Linked DNA regions of Homo sapiens: region 1 is linked to region 2. A link means that fine-mapping ties the variant in region 2 to the expression of a gene that starts in the linked region. Tissue or cell type: whole blood. Region 2 holds a variant in brackets; the other region holds the start of a gene. Each region is shown on its reference strand, or each on the opposite one.

Evidence for each region. PIP is the estimated chance that this variant, and not a neighbour inherited with it, causes the effect.
Region 1: SNAPIN starts here. The variant in region 2 is fine-mapped to the expression of SNAPIN in whole blood (TOPMed, PIP 0.90).

The regions. Positions count from the first base shown.
Region 1 is chr1:153,655,598-153,660,962 of GRCh38, forward strand. It overlaps SNAPIN (SNAP associated protein), which reads left to right and starts at 3,106. Exons shown (of 4, transcript NM_012437.6): 1 at 3,106-3,289; 2 at 3,541-3,587; 3 at 3,851-3,969. The coding sequence starts at 3,147. RefSeq lists an enhancer at 2,872-2,951.
Region 2 is chr13:54,883,425-54,888,806 of GRCh38, forward strand. No RefSeq gene overlaps it. Among named protein-coding and RNA genes, the nearest start is that of LINC02335, 170 kb to the right of the region's middle. The variant A/G (reference allele first, on the strand shown) is at 2,721.

The DNA of each region.
Region 1 (5,365 bases), not on the chromosome of region 2:
TCCTTTTCCCAAGGCCTGACTGTGAAGCAGGTTGCAGTTGCCTTGCCACTTACTCCCAAAATAAGCTCCTAGCCTCTCGCAAGAGCTTTACCTCTAATCACCAGAGAGGAAGATACAGGGATACAAACGTAATCAACGACAAAAAGTGTATAAGGTGGTTTTTGGTGTGTGTGTGTGTGAGACAGAGTCTTGCTCTTTCACCCAGGCTGGAGTGCAGTGGCATGATCACAGCTCACTGCAACCTCTACCTCCCAGGCTCAAGTGATCCTCCCACCTCAGCCTCTCGAGTAGCAGGAACTACAGGTGTGTGCCACCATGCCCAGTTATTTTTTTTATTAATTTTTTTGTAGAGATGGGAGTCTCCCTATGTTGCACAGGCCGGTCTTGAACTCCTGGCTTCAAGCAATCCTCCCGCCTCAGCCTCCCAAAGTGGTGGGATTACAGGCATGAGCCACCCCACCCAGTGTAAGTGTATAAGGTTTTAAAAGTTATCACAGTTGGGGCTGGGCTTGGTGGCTCACGCCTGTAATCCCAGCACTTTGGGAGGCCGAGGTGGGAGGACTGCTTGATGCAGGAGTTCAAGACCAGCCTGGGCAACATAGGGAGGCCTCGTCTCTACAAAAAATAATAATAAAAAAAAAGTTATCACAGTTGGGGTCTTAGGTTTAGAGCTGCTGACCACCAAATCTCACAGTGATTCAAATGCCTTATCTTCCTTTATTACTGAAGATGAAGCTCAAAGCTGAACGTTCTGGTGCCCATTTATCACTATGGATGCCTTTGCCTGTCCTCCAGGAGCATTTCTGCTCATACATCCTTCCCCATGGCCTAGGGAATTGGGAGCCACGGGAACACATTAGAGCCTAGGAGACAGATGTAAATTATCTGGAAAGCCATGAAAAACCAAACCGAACTAAACTAAGGAAGGAATCATTGTCTTCATAATTCTCAGGGAAAAAGAAAACCATGGAAGGGTGTCTTGAGGCCAGGAGTTCGAGAACAGCCTGGGCAACATAGGGAGACCCTGCCTGTACCAAAAAAATTTAAAAAATTAGCCAGGCATGGGGGCAGGTGACTGTAGTCCCAGTTACTTAGGAGGCTGAGGCAGGAGGATGGCTCGAGCCCAGAAGTTTGAGGTTACAGTGAGCTATGATAACATCACTGCACTCCAGCCTCAGCAACAGAGTGAGACCTTGTCTCTAAAAATGAAAGGAAAAATAAGTGAACTAAGGAAACTTTAAAATTTATTTTTATGGCCGGGCGCGGTGGCTCATGCCTGTAATCCTAGCACTTTGGAAGGCCGAGGCGGGTGGATCACGAGGTCAGGAGATCGAGACCATCCCGGCTAACGTGGTGAAACCCCATCTCTACTAAAAATACAAAAAATTAGCCGGGCGTGGTGGTGGGCGCCTGTAGTCCCAGCTACTCGGGAGGCTGAAGCAGGAGAATGGCATGAACCCGGGAGGCGGAGCTTGCAGTGAGCGAGATTGCACCACTGCACTCCAGCCTGGGTGACAGAGCAAGACTCGGTCTCAAAAAAAAATTTTTTTTAATTTTTATTTTTTGAGACAGGGTCTCACCCTGTCACCCAGGCTGAAGTGCATGCAGTGCCACGATCTTGGCTCACTGTAGCCTCAACTTCCTAGGCTCAAGGTCCTCCTACTTCAGCCTCCCAAGTAGCGGGGACCACAGCTGTGAGCCACCATGCCTGGCTAATTTTTTTTTTTTTTTTTTTTTTTGAGATGGAGTCTCGCTCTGTCGCCCAGGCTGGAGTGCAGTGGCGCGATCAGGGCTCACTGCAAGCTCTGCCTCCCGGGTTCACGCCATTCTCCTGCCTCAGCCTCCCGAGTAGCTGGGACTACAGGAGTCCGCCACTGCGCCCGGCTAATTGTTTGTATTTTTAGTAGAGATGGGGTTTCACCGTGGTCTCGATGTCCTGACCTCGTGATCCACCCGCCTCGGCCTCCCAAAGTGCTGGGATTACAGGCGTGAGCCACTGCGCCTGGCCGCCTGGCTAATTTTTTATTTCCTGTAGAGACAGAGTCTCACTAGGTTTGTTGCCCAGACTGATCTCGAACTCCTGGGCTCAGGTGATCCTCCCGCCTCAGCCTCCCAAAGTGCTGGGATTACAGGAGTGAGCCACCATGCCCTGCCTGCATGTTTATATTATTCAGCCTTAAAAAGGAATGAAATTCGGATACATGCAGTTTTTTACATATTTAATGCCATTAAAAATATACTCTTTAGAAATAGACCAGGCGTGGTGGCTCACGTCTGTAATCCCAGCACTTTAGGAGGCTGAGTTGGGAGGATCACCTGAGCCCAGGAGTTCGAGACCAGTCTGGGCAACAAACATAGTGAGACCTCTTCTCTACAGAAAATGAAAAATTAGTCAGGCATGGTGGCTAACACCTGTGGTCCCTGCTACTTGGGAGACTGAAGCAGGAGGACCTCTTGACCCCAGGAGGTGAAGGCTACAGTGAGCCAAGACGGTGGCACTGCACTCCAGCCTAGGCGACAGAGAGAGACCTTGTCTTAAAAACAACCAACCACAATAAACTCTTTAGAAATAGAAAACGATACTATGAATATAATGTGGCTTTCTCATAAAGTGTTTTTGTTTTTGGTTTGTTTTTGTTTGGTTTGGGTTGCTTTTTTTTTTTTTTTTTTTTTTTTTGAGGCGGAGTCTCTCTGTTGCCCAGACTGGAGTGCAGTGGCGCGATCTCGGCTCACTGCAATCTCCGCCTCCCGGGTTCAAGCGGTTCTCCTGCCTCAGTCTCCCAAGTAGCTGGGTGCCCGCCACCATGCCCGGCTATCTCATAAAGTTAACATGGGAAGGCTATGGACAACTGCAGGTATTCGCGTTTATTTTCACCTTTAAAGAAAACGAAAAGTATCCACTCCAAAAACTGGTTCCTTTCTACAACCTGAACTTTGGAGATTTTCAAGACCAGCCACAAGGCCTCTACTCCTACGGCCTGGCCCTCCTCCCCGCCCGGTTCGCGCTAGACTCCATTTCCCAGAAACCCCGGTGTCTTGGTGGAGACAGCATTTCCCGGGCGCCCCCTCACGGGGCGGGGCAGTGCGGCGCGGCTCCGGTTCCCGGCGGCCCTCGCGGCAGGTTTCGGGCTTCAGGACAATTCGTGATGGCGGGGGCTGGTTCCGCCGCTGTATCGGGGGCAGGGACCCCGGTGGCGGGGCCCACAGGCCGCGACCTTTTCGCCGAAGGGCTGCTGGAGTTCCTGCGACCCGCTGTGCAGCAGCTCGACTCTCACGTACACGCCGTCAGGTGCCCGGGAGGGAAGTTGGGGGCGGGGCCTGTCTCTCTGGCTTTGTAGGGGCGGGGCCAAGAAAGTGTTCTGGCTGGGAGTGGGCATAAATTTAGGAAACTGATTCGAGGCGGGGAGGACAGGCGGGAAGGCCGCAGGTGGAGGGTTCAGCGGAGGCCGGCTTCTCTCAGTACTTGGTAAATACGTAGGGGAGTTCGTTTCCTGAGCTCCGGTAACTGCCTGACCTTGTAGGCCTTGTACCTCTTTGCAGAGAGAGCCAGGTAGAGCTCCGGGAACAAATTGACAACCTAGCCACAGGTGAGTGAGCATCCCTGTGTACCCGGAATTCTTCAGCCCACTTTCAGGACCTTAGGTTTTTGCCAACCCCTGGGCTGAGTTTCTGTCACTTGCTTCCAGGGCATCAGGGCTGCCAAAGGACTCCTCCTTTCAGGGATGTCTTAAATCTCTAATGGCTGTGGCCCGTTTGGGTGCAAGTGTTTTCCATCCCATTACCAGCCTGCTTTCCCTCAGAACAAGAGATAAGCCGTTAGATCTTAGCTGCACCTTACTTCCATCCCCAGAACTGTGCCGCATAAATGAGGATCAGAAGGTGGCCCTGGATCTTGACCCCTATGTTAAGAAGCTACTTAATGCCCGGCGACGCGTTGTCTTGGTTAACAACATTCTACAGAATGCTCAGGTAAAAGAATATCTTACCAACAGTGATTCTTTGCCCTTTTTTGTAAGTCCTCAACACAGTGAAAGCCACTGTAATTTTAAAATTCTTTGGGGAAAGGGAAATTCACTTCTCCCAGTACTTGAAAAATACCTAGGAAAATTCGTCTCATTCTCACTATTCAGTTGCTGCCATTTACATTCTTGTGTGTGTGTGTGTGACAGTCTCCCTCTGTCACCCAGGCTGGAGTGCGGTGGCTCAATCTCAGCTCGCTGCAACCTCCGCCCCCTGGGCTCAAGCAATTCTGCCTCCGCCTCCCGAGTAACTAGGACTACAAGCGTGCACAACGCCCAGCTAATTTTTGTATTTTTTTGTAGAAGTAGGGTTTCTCCATGTTGCCCAGGCTGGTCTGGAACTCCTGGGCTCAAGTGAGCTTCCCACCTTGGCCACCCGAAGTGCTGAGACTACAGGAGTGAACCACCACACCTGGCTATTTATTTTTATGATACAAGGTCTATCACCCAGGATGGAGTGCAGTGGCATGATAAAGGCTCACTGCAGCCTCTACCTCCCAGGCTCAAGCGATCCATCCACCTCAGCCTCCCAAGTAGCTGGGACTACAGGCATGCACCACCATGTCCAGCTAATTTTTGTATTTTTTCTAGAGACAGGGTTTCACCATGTTACCCAGGCTGGTCCCAAACTCCTGCATGCGAGTGATCCACCTGCCTGGGCCTCCCAAAACGCTGGGATTACAGGCGTGAGCCACTGCACCCGGCCTGCCTGGCCTTTTTTTTTTTTTTTTTAAATAAAAAGACAGGATCGGCTGGGCGCGGTGGCTCTTGCCTGTAATCCCAGCAGTTTGGGAGGCCGAGGTGGACAGGTCACCTGAGGTTGGGAGTTGGAGACCAGCCTGACCAACATAGAGAAACCCCGTCTCTACTAAAAATACAAAATTAGCTGGGCGTGGTAGCGCATGCCTGTAATCCCAGCTACTTGGGAGGCTGAGACAGAAGAATCACTTGAGCCCGGGGGACGGAGGTTGCGGTGAGCTGAGATCGCACCATTGCACTTCAGCCTGGGCAACAAGAGCGAAACTCCGTCTCGGGAAAAAAAAAAAAAAAAAAAAAAGACAGGCTATCACTATGGTGCCCAGGCTGTTCTCAAACTGGGCTCAAGTGATCTTCCTGCCACTTCCTCCTAAATGGTGCTGGGATAGGCATGAGCACCATGCCTGGCCTACATTTTTTTTTTTTTTTGAGATGGAGTTCTCCCTCTGTCACCCAGGCTAGAGTGCAGTGGCACGATCTCATTTCATTGCAACCTCCACCTCCCGGTTTCAAGCGATTCTCCTGCCTCAGATTACAAGCACCCGCCACCATGCCCAGCTAATTTTTTTGTATTTTTTAGTAGAGACGGG
Region 2 (5,382 bases):
TCTGAAAAGATGGCTCAAATACATAAGTACAAAAATGTTCATTGTGGCACCTATTGAATAGGAAAATGTCATATACAACTTCAAGTTCAAAAAAAGGGTTAGAATTTAGAACGTTTAATTTGTTTCTGCTTTTAGCATAAATATTCTTCCTAAGTGTCCTAAGATTATCTGTATTACTTCAGCAATTGTCTTCTCTTTACTTCCCATTCACCATTCAACCCACTCTAAAATGAGTTCTGGTTTCACAACAATTTCCCCAAAGCAGTCCCACCAATGTCTCCATTGATAACTATTATTTGTCATTTACAGCATTATACCAGCATGACTTATATATTTTCACCCCTACTTTTCTCTCTAGTCTCATCTCAGGCATCATAAAGAGCCTTATTGCAGTCTGACCCTTCTTTCCACTGTCCACTTCAGTTATGTTTTTAAGTCTCTTTTACATCCATGGATGCTTGTGTTTAAATTTGACTTACATGGCTCCAACATTCCTAAAATTTTCCCAGTTTCTCACTGGGCTTTAGATAAAGAACGAGATCCTTAAACTGACTGGCCAGGCGCTACACACTGTGGCCCTTCAGCATCGCCAGTTTCATCCACTTGCTCTCCTTCTCTCTCCCACACTGGCCTTCCTTCATTTCTTGGAAGATGACTTGTGCATCAATATGGGGTTCTGGCTCATGCTAGTTTCTTCTTGAGCAGGTTTATCTTAGTACATCCACTTGTCTAATTAAGTCATACTTGACTTGAGGTAGTAGTTAAATTCTAATATATGTTGGACACCTTCCCTAATCCTCTAAACTGGGTCATTTTTCTCAGTTATATTTTTAGTAGAATCATGTTTCCTACTGCCCTATGCCACATGTTGTGTAGAAAGTAGCTCAGTTGATCATTATACAAGAAGTCATGCCATCATTTGATTAACATCTATCTAAAGTATGTATTTAAATCTTTGTCTAAATTTCATTTTTTTTGTATTATTTGATTAACATCTACATGAACTGTAATCCTCATGAGAGTTGATGTTTTGTTTTATTATTCTTTTTTTGTATTTGTAGATATGGGGTTTTACCATGTTGCCCAGACTGGTCTGGAACTGGAACTCCTAAACAATCTGTCTGCCTTGACCTCACAAAGAGCTGGGATTACTGGCATGAGTCACTGCCTGCCACCAAATGCTTTTTTTTTTTTTCAGTATTTTGTTTCTTGGTGCCACACACATAGTAGGGGCTCCAAAATTATTTTTGATCACCTCTGATATCATTAAGAGGTATGAACTTATTCCCACCGAGCATGAGACCAGCAGAACTTGTTTTCTGGTCACAACTGTGCTGACCAAAACAGTGTCTGGTCCAGAGGATGAAGTAAAGAAATTGGCAGCTACCAGCGGGTGATGTGGAAAGCAATCCCTAGCTCCCCTTATTGCTCATTAGCATAGGACACTCCCAACAACACCATCACAGTTTACAAATGCCATGGCAATGACCCAGAAGTTACCACTCCTTTCCATGGCATTGACCCAGAAGTTACCAACCCTTTCCTAGCAAGCTCTAGATAACCCACCCTTCTATTTGCACTGACGGACTCCTTAATTTGCATGTAATTGAAAGTGGCTTTATGTGAGTAGAAAAGCAATTGCCCAAAGCCCAGTGGTTGACCCACTCCGGGTGCATGGCCTATGAGTTAGCCCTGCTTCTCAAGGGAGCAGTACAGTGCAATAAAAGATTGCTGTCTAATACCAGTGGCTCATCCTTGAATTATTTTTTGGACTAAGCCCCAATTCTCAGGCTCCTCTGTTTTGCGACATCACAAGCTAATTGCAGTTAACTACTCAAAATGCTTTCTTTTGGTAAATTGGAAATATGCTCAATTATAGATATAGGGATTGTTGTAATTTGTTGTCACAATTATAGCTTGTGCATTAGAAAAAAGCCTAAAGACTGATAAAAGTATTGATAATTCTGTGGTTTTCCTCCAATTTTCTAAGTCCTAACCAAACCTAGGTTAGTTATGTTGGAATCTAGTTTCAACTTAAAGCCATTTCTTGACTAAGAAGAAATAAACTTTACCAAACATTGATAGTACTATACCATACCAATGTTATTAAGATTTCCTAAAGGAATAAGAAGCTAATAATTTTAAATATATACTCTAAATGCTCACTAGTGTCAGTGTGTGCATGTGTGTGTAAAAGAGCATGTGCATACATTTTACTTCATCTAATTTCTTTTTGTCTTAACATTGCTCTCTGGAATAAGAACTATTTACAAAAGTCATTCATTTCCTCCTCTTTTTTGCTGTTATTGTTGTTATATTTCACTTCCAAGATACAATTAAGCCATCTATATAAGCAGGAAAAAACATGTCAGGGCTATAAAGAAGTCCTTAAAAAGAGTGATACAAGCAGAAAACTGATTTGTTTTCATGAGTTTTAAATAGTTGAAGGATATGATAAAAGTGCAGACTTGATAATTTAAAAGTATGTTCCCATTAACAGCCTTAGCTTTTATCAGAGCTTTAGTGCTTAGGGCTTGCTTTGATTTTCTGAATTTTAACAAGCATAAATTATATTTCCATTTGATCACTATCATGGACACTAGGTTTTTAAAACAAGTCTTTGTGGACATCATCATTTTCAGAAATTTTGTATCTGCTGTTGTGTAAAACCGATTATGTGATCTACAATCTCCACATGCGATTCTTGATTGTTACTCAAC[A/G]TGTCAGAAATATTTAATGAAACCTTTTAGAAATAGCAAACCACATATGTAAGGAGAATCTGAACATGTTTAGCACTTGTAACATCTGAATGTTTATGGATGTAAAAAAATTATCCCCTAGGAAATACGTTGCTTAGATAGGGAGGTTTTAACTTCAGCAAGTAGACTTTATAAACAGATGGGATCACAGTCATTTCTATTTCAGGACACCATGTCATTCTGTATGTGCCACCATGCTACAGCAGTTTCTTCCCACCAGCCTAGTCACGTCAGTCATTCACCTTCTGGTACTTCAGGGTTTCATTAGCTCATAGCTGCCTGACCTTGTGATGGGTGCAAGTCGACAGGTAGTTCATAACCCTTTGCTGTCAGAATTAGCATTCATGATACTACTTAAACTGTGCTGCCAATTTAGAGTTCGTTATTAAATGGGGCATATGTTACTACACTTATAACTGATTTGATCTATTTATTTTTAGTTTGACCTTTTTTTTATTCATCAAATCAGTTTTGAAATAGACATTGAAGTACCCTTCATTATAAAAATTTCTGTGGCTGATATTTTATATGGAGTTTTCCAGATTCTGAGTTGTTCCATGATAAATGTTAGATTTCAATGTTAGTTTAAACAAAAGTGAAGTAAGCATGGGTCCCCAGGATATTGACGAACGCTTTTTTTCAACCCTGCAACAGCTTTACACTCCAAGTATAACTGAATTTGAAAGCATACACCTTCCTTTCAGTATCAAAAGTGACAAAAGTAGAACTAGGAAAAACAATGTATATTATGAATTATTTTACATCGTTAATTCTTTTCTGACTCTCTCTACCCTTCCCGCATTAATCTAGCATTGAAAAATATCGAACCCAAAAATATAGATAATATTCAATACAAAGTACTATATTTTTTCTTAAAAATAGCTGAAACACATTTTACTATTTCAATTAGAAATTTCAAAAGCACGATTCTTAGAAATATGATTGAAGAAAGAAAACAGTACTGAAAGAACATTGTTTCATAGAGAGTGAAGTCTAAGAACAATAGGAATAAAGGCAAAAGCAGTAGATGCAAATCTTAAAGGGTACTTTTGGTCTTCTCTTACTCAGCAAAATTCATTGCTGGTGCTATGGGGAAGTGTAGAATTTTGTAATGATTCCTTACTTTACAAATTGTATAGATTTATACATGTGAAATGACAGATGATGTGTGATAGAAGTTTCATGCATCTAATTATCTTATTACTTCTTTTCTTCATTTACTATTATTTTACAGCAATTTTAATATAATAATGTGGATACTATGCCATATTCATTAACAAATGAACCCAAGGATGATGTTTGTAGCATAGGGAAATTCAAAATGAAAGGTTTTTTTTTAGATGCTGTAGGTTAATTTTTTAAGAAATAAGCAATAGAGAGTACTTTAAAAGGTAGCTTTTCCTGCAACATCATAATGACCCTATGTCAATGTGGGCTTATTGAAGTCAGATCATAATACAAATGTTACTATATATAAAAGGTCAATGGCATGCCTTTTCTGTTTTCTTTACCTGCAAAGTCGCCAGTCAGTGACATATTGTCTGATTTCAAATGTGCAAGATTTCCTTGAATTTCTGATAATGTATTGGCCATTAGGTTGGCTACATATATAGAAGAAGAATTTATCAATTCCAAGCATGACATTGAAGGGATAACTTGAATTCAGAATTTTACTTTTGCTGATTTTCTCTTTTAACTATTTTTGTGGGCCTGATTAAATCTTTAAAATCTCTATTATTCTTCTAACTGTTTACAAGAAATTGACAATTTTTGGTATTTTGTCACACCAGATCTTGGAGCATCTGTAACACTGGAGTATCTTTAAATGAAGGAATCAATAATTATAATATCAAAACTGCAACTGGATTGGTAACTAGATTCCATAAGTTATCATACATACAGTGAGCTGGTCTTGCCATATATAGCTGTAAGTGTAAAAATTAACTGGATGCTTTAAAACATTAGTCTCCAACCTTTCGGCTTCCCTTGGCCACATTGGAAGAAGAAGACTTGTCCTGGGCCACACATAAAATACACTAACGTAACGATAGCTGATGAGTTAAAAAAAAAAAAGTCCATGCATCATTTTCATGATATCCACCACCACAAATAAGCAAAAAAAGTCCTCAAGTTTAAAGGGCTGGAAACAGCTGCTTTAAAAGTTACTGAGATACGAAAAAGTATCAGCAAAACAATTAAATAGTAATAACTAAGCTGCTCCTTTGAACTTGATTTGAGAGGGTTAAAGGATAATCATATAAATGATTTCAACACTTTCGCTTTTAAGGGCATTTATATTTTTTCCACTGGTCAGTTCTCCGTCCTCTCCTTGCAGGGTTTACTGTCTGATATTTCTTTCTGTATTATTATTCCTCTTCATTTATAATGCAAGCTTCCATAGACTCACAAAAACTAAAATCTAATGGGCACAGGTCCACTCCTCAGAACGCTGCACATTTGCAATTCCTGTATTTACTTACCCTTTTGGGAAGCCTATGTTCACTCCAGGCTCTTAGTTCCTTTCACATCCATCTGAACAACAACTACAAAATGATGTTTTGATATACCACAAGAATTTAAGAGAGTGCCCTGAGAATCGGGCTACCTTTATCTTAGCCCTTTT